Linked DNA regions of Homo sapiens. The protein of the gene in region 1 interacts with the protein of each later gene in a biochemical or structural test. Each region holds a gene or a part of one and is shown in the gene's direction. Other genes may lie near its edges.

The links. Proteins that work in one complex are often made in the same cells at the same time.
Region 2: the proteins of PKN2 (region 1) and PDZRN4 interact in a test that uses a peptide from one of them, tested with the Homo sapiens proteins (one large-scale study listed by IntAct).

Annotation. Positions count from the first base shown.
Region 1 is NC_000001.11:88,689,935-88,695,269, forward strand, and holds part of PKN2 (serine/threonine-protein kinase N2), read left to right. Parts: intron 1-1,789; exon of another isoform or gene 1,790-1,846; intron 1,847-5,335. UniProt on the Homo sapiens protein: PKC-related serine/threonine-protein kinase and Rho/Rac effector protein that participates in specific signal transduction responses in the cell.
Region 2 is NC_000012.12:41,505,684-41,511,018, forward strand, and holds part of PDZRN4 (PDZ domain-containing RING finger protein 4), read left to right. Parts: intron 1-772; coding exon 773-1,029; intron 1,030-4,127; coding exon 4,128-4,230; intron 4,231-5,335.

The DNA of each region.
Region 1 (5,335 bases):
GACTACCACAATGTTTGTAATTTGCAGCGCATACTTTGCTGAATTAAACATACTAAATAACTTTCCAAATATTTCTTGACTACCAAGATAAAAGTCTGTGTTAAAACTAGTGTTACTAAATGATGGCTCTAAAATGGATTTTTTTGTCATCTCTCATTAGTGTAATAGAGATTAGGTCTAGTATCATGCAATTCCTACCATTCACATAGTGTTGAAATAGGGACAAGTAGGGGCACCTTTTAGACATCATCTCTTTATCCCAGAGCTTAGCATCTGATTCCTTGGGCTCTCTTATTTCTGCTTTTTGAATTTGGCAATGGTAAATTTTCATGCCATTCATCAGAAGCATGTTTACTTTTAAACAAATAAAGTAGTAGTTTGTAAACATCACCTAAAATAATGTTACTTTCATACCATAAATGGTATTTGAATAAAACAGTTAATTCTACATTATTCCCTCATAAAATATACTGTGCTGATAATTGTCAAATGTCTATATTATTTCAAAAGCCAATTTTACTCTACAGTATATGACATTTAATATGATCAACTTTTGATATACAGCAGAGTTCAAACTTGACAGCAAAGTTGAAAACTAGTTAAAAGCTTTAAAAAGATTTAAAATTTAGAGTGGGAAAAATATACTAATGAAAAAGTAATTCCTTAATGAAACAGAAATAGAGAATCTTTATCTTGATGCATGTCTAGCTTGTCTTAATTTTATCTGATGAAATCTTGTTTGAAACTAGCTCTATTATCATACTTGGTTTTTTTTTGCAATCACAAAAATGAAATTTGTGTAACATTATATACATAAATATTGCCTGTAAAAAATGAAGATCAAGAAAGCATGGGACAGTGTACTTGATGACAGTAAACACCTTAAATGTGAAGGTAGTGTTGAAGTGCCTCATAAAGATGAGTGGATATACAAGACTTACATAATATTGTTAGGATTTATCTCTTTTAGAAATTTGTCAGTGACTTATCAAATTGGTGAAAGTTTTACTGCCCTGGCTCATAAGTACCTTAATTTAATGGAATGTAGTTATGACAAAATTTGGAATTTATTTTTGATTATAGAAGACATACCACACAATACATGTGCTGAGAGTTTTTTATTTATTTTATTTTTATTTTTATTTTTGAGACAGGATCTCGTTCTGTCACCCAGCTTGAAGTGCAGTGACGTGATCTCGGCTCACTGCAGCCTCTGCCTCCTGGGCTCAAGTGATTCGCCCATCTCAGCCTCCCAAGTAGCTGGTACTATAGGTGTGAGCCATCATGCATGGTTGATTTTTATATTTTTTTGGAGAGACGGGGTTTTGCCATGTTGCCCGGGTTGGTTTTGAACTGCTGGACTCAAGCAGTCCACCTGCCTTGGCCTCCCAAAGTGCTAGGATTACAGATGTGAGCGTCTGTGCCTGGCCTGAGTATCATATATTTTACACATTAATCATACTGTTTTCCCTTCCCTGTAGTTGCTACCTTAGGGATTCTTTAAGGAGGTGTTTGTTCTCCATTTCAGAATTTTCATTGAACAAATTTTATGCAACTTTTGGATTTTTAAAAAATTTGTTAAACATCAGGCACACTGCATTGGATTAATCACCTATCTGTCTGTCAATCATTTTAATAAGTACTCATGGACCACCACTCCCCCTCTCTCAAAACAAGCTAGGAACTTTAACCTACGTATAGTTTTCCTCTATTCTATCCGTCTATTTCCACCTTCTTGTCATCTAGGTCATCATTTTTGAGTCCTGTGTTCATTCTCTTCCTTATATAGTAGTCCCTCCTTATCCACGGTTTCAGTTACCCATGGTCAACTGTGGTCCAAAAATAGGTGAGTACAGTATAGTACTATAAGATATTTATAAGTACTAAGATACTTTGAGAGAAACCACACTCATAACTGTAATTACAGTATAGTTATAATTGTTCTATTTTATTATTAGTTATTGTTAATTGCTTACTGTGCCTAATTTATAAATTAAACTTTAGCATAAGTATGTATGTTAAAGGAAAAGTGTAAATAGAGTTTAGTACTGTTCGTGGTTTTAGGCATTTACTGAAGGTCTCTCGGTGGATAAAAGGAGACTACTGTGTATAGTTTAGTTGGACATATAAATCTAAACATCTTTTAGTTGTTTGTATAGAATTGTGAATATAATCTTTTTGAACTTGATTTTTCACCTGTTATAAATAAGATTTATCCACATTTTTGCATGTTGCTATAGTCATTATTTAAATTGCTATATAATATTTCATTGAGTAAAATATTCATTAACTCTACTTTGGTGGATATTTGGATATTTATCCACTCTCCCTTGTTGGGCAGTTATTTTCCATTTTTTGTTTTGTTTTGTTTGTAATTATAAGCAAAGATCCTATGGACAGTCTGCATGTTTCCTACTGTGCATGTGCCACAGTTCCTATTATATACCTAGAGGTAGCATTGCTGCCTCACAGGGTAGGTGAATGTTCAACTTAAGAGATGATGCAGAACTTTCAATATGGTTGCACCAATTTATATTCATATTAGCAATATATGAAATAAAAGATCCTTTGGTTATCCATCCTCTCCAACACTTGATATTCTCTTTTTAAGTTTTACAAATCATAAGGGTGTAAAATGTTGCCTTATTGTGGTCTTGATGCGCATTTTCCTGGTTATCACTGATGTAGAACACTTCTTTTTATGTTTGTCGGCCTTTTTACGTGGCTTCTTCAGTGAAATTCCTATTTATGTCTCTTGCCTATTTTTGTTTTTCTTACTAGTTTATAAGAGTTCTTTATATTGCTTATGTTAATCCTCTGTGTACATTGTGAATGTCTTCTTTCAGTTCCTAACTTTTTCGCTTTCTTTTATGGAGTTGTGTGGGAGGGACAGTTTTAAATGCCTCTACCTTCTTTGGCAAATATTTGGAATAATTTACATCGTTATCATCAACAGGCTTGTATTTAATATCTATTGTACATTTGGTATAGAAAGGGTAAAGTTATATTAATAGTTTATGGCCTGGGGATTTGTAAACTATCCAAATGAACAGCCATAGGAAGTTGTATAAAATATTGTATTGCTTCACACATGCTAGGCACCCAAATGCTAGGTTGATTTAGTTAATGAGTAAATTCAGAAGCAAAGAAATAGCAAAAATTATACATACACTTCATCAGTTGCTTATTTTCCAATTCCATACCTCTCTGTTGCAAACTACTTATTATTAGTCATTAATAATATTTTATTCTTTTGTTTAAAGGGCAGTATATTCCGTAAGATTATGTGAGTCAGTTATTTAGGTATTTTCATAGCTTGCCATTAAAATGCTGGAGTTGATCAGATTTAATACTGGATATAAAGCAAAATATTAATCTTCTGAACAGTTTACTAGTTCAGAAGTTTACAAACTCGGAATCCTAAATACAGTTTTTGTCATTGCTGTGCATCTTTTGATAAAAAAAATTCTTAAGTCAAATTTGTCCATTGTTTATCATACAGTAAGTCCTCACTTAATGTCATTGACGGGTTCTTGGAAACTGACTTTAAGCAAAATAACTTATAATGAAACCAGTTTCTTTTTTCTCATCAGTGTTCTAAGGAAATGATATTATAAACAATGAAACATTAGCCAGAAGTGGTGATGCACACCTGTAGTCCCAGCTACTTTGGAGGTGGAGGTGAGAGAATGACTTGAGCCCAAGAGTTAAGGCTGCAGTGAGCTGGAATCGTGTCATTGCACTCTAACCTGGGCAGCATAGTGAGACCCTGTCTCAAAAAAAGAAAGAAAAGAAATGATATTGAGCGAAACAGCATTATTAAAGGACCTGAAGCACATTGTTTTTCTTAAAGTCTCAGTTCCAAGAACCTATCAGCAGTGTTAAGTGAGGACTTACTGTAATTGCTTTTCATGCCCTTTTAAATAAATTATTCCCTATCCTGGGTTTAAAAGATAGCTACCCAAGTTTGCTCCTAAGAATCTTGCAGTTTTATTTTTTAGATTTAAGTCAGTTTATCTGGATTTGTTGTTTTTTAATAGACTTCATATTTTAAAGCAGTTTTAGGTCCACAGCAAAATCGAGAGGAAGGTCTAGAGATTTCTCAAATAACTGCGTCCCTACATATGTACATATGCATTATCGACATCCTCCACAAGAGTACATTTGTTGCAGTTGATGAACCTATATTGACACATCATCATCATCCAGAGCCCAGAGTGCACACATCTTGGTGTTGTGCATTCTATGGGTTTGTACAAATGTATAATGACATGTATCCAGCATTATAGTATACAGAATAGTGTCCCTGCACTAAGCTTATTCTCTGTGTTCTACCTATTCATCCTTCCCTCTCCTCCATCCCCTGGCAACCACTGATCTTTTTACAGTTTCCATAGTTGTGCGTTTGGGAAAATCTCATGCGGTTGGAATCATACAGTGTGTAGCCATTTTACATGGGTTTCTTTCACTTAGAAATAAGCATTTAATTTTCCTCCATGTCTTTTCATAGCTTGATAGCTTATTTCTTTTTAGTACTGAATAATATCCCATTGTCTGTATGTACCTTAGTTTATTCATTCACCTACTGAAGGACATCTTGGTTGCTTCTGTTTTGGCAGTTATGAATAAAATGCTATAGACATCCTATGCAAGTTTTTGTGTGGATGCAACTTTTCAACTCCTTTGGTTAAATACCAGGGTGTCCAATTGTATGGTAAGAATATATTTAGATTTGTAAGAAACTCCCAAACTGCCCTCCAGAGTGCCCGAACTATTTTGTATTCCTACCAACAATAAGAGTTTTTGTTGTTCCACACCATCTCCAGTATTTGGTGTTGTCAGTTTTCTGGATTTTGGTCATTCTAATAAGTGTATCATGGTATCTCATTTCTGTTTATTTAATAGCATTGATTTTTGAATATGGAGATAGGTCTGAGTTATTTTAATGTTTAAAAACATTTTGAAGGCCAAGGCGGGCAGATCATGAGGTCAGGAGATCGAGAGATCACAGTGAAACCCCGTCTGTACTAAAAATACAAAAAATTAGCCGGGCGTGGTGGCGGGCGCCTGTAGTCCCAGCTATTCTGGAGGCTGAGGCAGGAGAATGGCGTGAACCCGGGAGGCAGAGCTTGCAGTGAGCCGAGATTGCGCCACTGCACTCCAGCCTGGGCGACAGAGCGAGACTCCATCTCAAAAAAAAAAAAATTTTGAAATGTCTGTCAGACGTCTTTATAATGCAAATTTAAAATAGAGCACTTTTCAGCTTTTAGGATAGAAACATCTACACATAGCTTTATTAGCCTAACTCTAACTTGCAAAAATTAATCAAATATGA
Region 2 (5,335 bases), on another chromosome or scaffold:
CTCTTTCTCTGTAATGTCCAGGGCTACCTTGGAGAGTCATGAATTGGTAGAAATTAAAACAAGTGAGTATCTAGAGGGACATAATATACCCATTCAGAGGAATTTTAGAGCATTGCTTCTTTCAGTGAATATAAATATAAAGCCGGAATCTTGTGAGTATGCCAATTCTGATTCAGTGGGTCCAGGGTGGTGCCAGGGATTCTGTATTTCTAATAATCTTTCATGTGATGCTGATGCTGCTAGTTCACAGACCACACTTCAAACAGTGAGGATTTAGGATAAAATGCACATGGGCAATAACATGGTCTTGGATTAAAACATTATGAATATGGAGGAAATTTGACAATATCTTAAAAAATTAAATTTTAGGCAAGTAAGACCTTGATTAAATATTGAAAATCTCACCGAGAGATTGATAGATCATGAAAAAGTAGGATATACTTAACATTTCTAACTATCTGAAGACTTCGGTGACCCTTTTCTGAAGCAGATGTGTTACTTAAATTTTTAAATCTTTGCTAATAGTTCTGCTGTTTTACTAGTTAACCAACTCCAGATACTTTATAAAGATACAGAAGTAATTGTTGTTGTAATCTCAGGTACTTCATCATGTTGGTAAAGACTTCAGTAAATATTAATATCTGATTAAATATTCCATTACAAAATTCATATCAGGGCTGGTTGAAACCTTTCTCTCTGTCTTTTATTAATCTATCATGACAGCCTCTCTGATCTTTCCTCTGAGATGAACAATGTCCTTATATGTTTGTAGGTCAATGGGAAGGATCTTTCAAAGGCCACTCATGAAGAGGCAGTGGAAGCTTTTCGCAATGCCAAGGAGCCCATTGTGGTGCAGGTGTTAAGGCGAACACCTCTTAGTAGACCAGCCTATGGGATGGCTTCAGAAGTGCAGCTTATGAATGCCAGCACTCAGACGGACATCACCTTCGAACACATCATGGCTCTGGCCAAGCTTCGTCCACCTACCCCTCCAGTGCCAGACATCTGTCCATTCCTGCTCTCAGACAGGTATTTTTCTATCATTTCTTCCAAAGCCCTGTTTGTTTCCATTTGTCACGTAAAGCAGATGTTGAAAAGAAGCAGTTCCACTAGCAGGTTGACAGTTATGGAGACAGGCTTCCCAGCTCCGTTTGGAAAATGTCTCCCCTGTTTTGATATGTGCAATTAGTTCTCAGTGGTCCCTGCTAGCTACTCTCCCTGACCCACATGGTTGCTCCACCTGGGTAATCATACTTGCTAGCTGCTGTGAAAAATTCTGGCTCTGATTAGTTCATCTTCATATTACTAGCTGTCAAAAGCCTCATGCTACTCATGAACACTGGTCAGGGAAATCACTTTTCTCACCAAAGCTGCCAAAAACCTTATTAAGACTCATGTGGAAGTGGCATCTTGGCACCACATTCTCCTCTGTGGGCCACCTCTCTCTCTTCCTTGCATTTCTCTTCTTTAAAGAGAAGCTAGGAAATTGATTTAATTAAAGTGCAATTCTCTGACGAAAGCACTTACCCAATATATTGAGATATAAACAAAGGATCTTGGCTGTCAGAGAGTAAGTATAGTGCTATCAAATAAAGATCTATTCAAGGAATACTTCCTCCTGATTTTTGCCTAATTTAAAGGAAGTCAGAGAGATTTTATTCAAATAATCCTACTTGAACAGTTTTAAAAGTATGCTTGCCCAATTCATTGTGTTCTGTGAGCTTTCGAGCAAATATTCAAACATTGAGAGTTTGTAAGAGCAATAGTCTCCTTAGCCTGCATTTTCATCACCTACTCCAATCCGCTCTCTACTTCATAAAACAAAGATCTGAGTCATGCCACTTTCCTGCCCTTTGATGGCTGGCTCCCATAAGCCCGTTTCAGTGGGTCACAGATGTACAATAGAATCACCTGGGAACTTTCAGAAGCTGTATCAGTACCTGAATCACTCCTTAGGCCAATTAAATGAGAATTCTTAGAGTAAGGCTTAGGCATCAGAAATTTTCAAAAGTCTCCCTAGGCAATCCTAATGTGCAGCCAAGTTTTGAAAACACTTCTTGAGACTTCGAGTTCCAGGAAGGCAGGGGATCTGTTTGTCTTGGGTATCTCTTTATTTTAAATAGCCCTTTGTATCAGACACAAATTGGATGTGTCAGGGCTTGCAACTAGATGCTTGGCATAAAACTATGAACAAAAATAAAGTCACTGCCTTCTAGAGTTTATATTCTACAAGGGGAGTTGAACAAAAAGCAAGGAAACAAATATATAATATTCATTAATACAGCCTAAAACATAGTAGCCATCCAACAAATACTTCCTTGAATGAATAATAATAGCTAGCTTGTATTAGCTAACTTAACATGCTTTCAGTATTATTCCAAACGTTTTGCATTTATTGACTCATTTAGTTCTCACAATAATCTTAGGAGGGAGTACATTATATTATCAACATTCTATGTCTAAGATGAGGGAACAGATATTAAGTAACATGGCCAAGATCACATAGCAAAAAAGTGACAGGGCCAGGCTTCTAGGCCTAAGAGGTCTGACCCCAATGCCTACCCCCTTAGCCAGTGCATCTTGCTGCTCTTCCTAGGTCCTGCAGACCTTAGCTTAGAGACAACCTCCTCTAGAAAACTTCCTAGGGCTGCAGTGGGTCCACCCCTACCATGTGCTCCCAAGGCTCCTGTATTTTTCCCTTAATTATTGCACTGTATTAAAATTCCCACTTTGCTGCTTTCCCCAATTAATAGGGCAGAATTGGATTTTGTAAACCAACATATTTCCAGCACTTGGCCTTGCATCTGGCAGCCACTAAATAAACGTCGAATGAATAAAGTGTTCCTCACAGCAGGGCTCCCTTCTTACTATCCGAAAGACAAGGGAAACACATCAGATGTCCAAAGCAGCAGGCTTCGATATTCCAAGAGCCCAAAAGGGCTATGCGGACCCAGTCCAGCTATAAGCAAGGAGATTTATCTGGTAGACACAAGGCAAGGTGCTGCCTGTATTACTTTTACCATTTTGGCCTACACTAGTTAGACCTGTGTGGAGCTGACAGCCATAGATAGTAGTGAGGAGAGGCTGGTAGAATATTTACGCTGACTATAGTATGAGGGCATGAGGATGGGTCTCTTGCCTTTCAACAAGGGAGAAGGGAACTAATTGATACTGCTATCTCCAATTTTTCAAAAAGATCCACACTGGCAGGAGTTAGAGGTCTCATCTGCAACCAACTTGTCAATTGTATTTAGGCTTTTTCAGTGTCTTTTAGAAATAGAAAAGGCCTTATGCTCTTTGCTGTTAAACTATGCTTAGTCTTCATATGGTATGATGTGTAGTCTTTATATCAGAACATACTAAATCGAATAACATGTTTACAAACTATTTAAAAATTTCCTAAAAGTTGAAATACATAAAAGCCATATCCTCTCATTTCCTTAATGTAATCTGCTCTCTCTGTCACTGAGAATTTTCTAAAGGTATTTTGAAACCTTGTGGCTTATAGGAGTTTCCACTGATTGATCGCCATGAATGTTCTTTAATATTTGTGTATATGTCCTTGATCAAAGAGGGGAAAATGTGCATTATGAGGGAGAGTGAGAAAGGGGGATCTTAAGAAAGAGAGGAGGGGACAATGTGAGCACATTTTAGAGTCTGAAAAAATAAGTGCTTTTGAAAATGGTTTTCAAAAAATAGTTTGCAGCTGTGGATTATGAAATTGGTAGTACTTTATGACAAAATACCCCTCTTTGAGTAGACTGCAATCTCAAATGCCACACACCCACGTATGGAGCTTGTCACATTCAGTGGAATGGAAGCAGGCCAGAAAGTATCAATAAAGCACCACGGACTGTCAGAGATTTCACATCAGTCTTTCCACAGAATACAACTCTGACCATAGGCCCTTATTCCTAGCATTCTCTCAGAAATTGCAAATTGATGGACTTCACGTAGAGGGAGAAAGAAAAGCTATTGCTTTTCCTCAGCTGTAGTTTGTTTAAAGACTAGATCACTACAGATCTTATTCCAAAGCAGAGCAAACTAAAGTGAAATTCTAAAATCAGTTTTAATCTGGAAAACAACCCATTTAATCTATTCCTATCATATTGCTACATTCCCCATAGCTGCCATTCTCTACATCCAATGGAGCATGAATTTTATGAGGACAATGAGTATATTTCCAGCTTGCCTGCTGATGCAGACAGAACAGAAGACTTTGAATATGAGGTAAGGTCATTTTCATACCACTTCACATTTCTTCATGAAGTTACGGTTGAGGGGTTTTGTATAACAAAGAAATTAATTTATTACAGTGAGAAATGTCTTGTCTATTACATATCCAGTGTAAGATCTTTCAAATACTATTTGCTTTAGCTATGTGGCTCTCGTGTTTTAAGTATATTGGAAAATATTTTTATAGTATAAGCTTAAATATAATTTGCTCTCATTTTGTTGCTTTTTAATAAATAATATTGCAACAGCTACATTTTTAAAATCTGTTCTATAATATATGTGGATTTCCAAGTGGAGTTTGAAAAATATATTTAAAACAAAGATTGTGTTTACTATTTTCATTTGTTGTATAATATTCTAATTTTCATTGATAAACTAAATTTTATTATATTGTATTCTTTGGAAATGCAATACTCTCTTTGTGCCTCTGGTCTGTACTCTAAAGAGCCATTTCACAGACTTCCTAGAAATAGAGATGGCCTCATGCCCTTTGTTGTTAAACTATATTTATTCTTCACATGGTTTAATGTCAGAATATCTGTACTGTGATATATAACAATTCGAAAAGTCCATCCATTGATTATTTAAAAGCTCTCACAAAAGTTAAAGAATGTATCCTAATATTTCCTCTGCTTCTGCAGCCTGAATATCTTTGAAAGGTTTCAGACTACTCTGACATTTAAAAATAAAATAGATTGAGGAAGTAAAGAAGCTTTGGTAAACAGGCAGAGAACCCATGGTCACCTGCCCTTTTAATGCTTCAGGTGATGTCATACAAGTTCAGCAAAGTGTTCTCTTCCACTTTACAACCAGGAAATCCTGAAATCTCTTCCCTTAGGAGGATCTGAAATCAAATAAGGAAGCTCATCTAAAGCAAATGGACGTTTGTTTGAAATCTTCTCCCCACAAAAGTCATTCCTGGGGATTACAGAAATCATTATTTCTTTGCAGCCAAAATTTAGAAGGATGTGAAATGACAACTGGTAACTGAGTAGATGGTTTTTGTCATTCTTGTGTTGTTCATGTTAAATTTTTACCTCCTCTTTATTAAGTTGATTGAAAAGTTTTATTTTCTAAATCTACTCAAGCACTGACATGC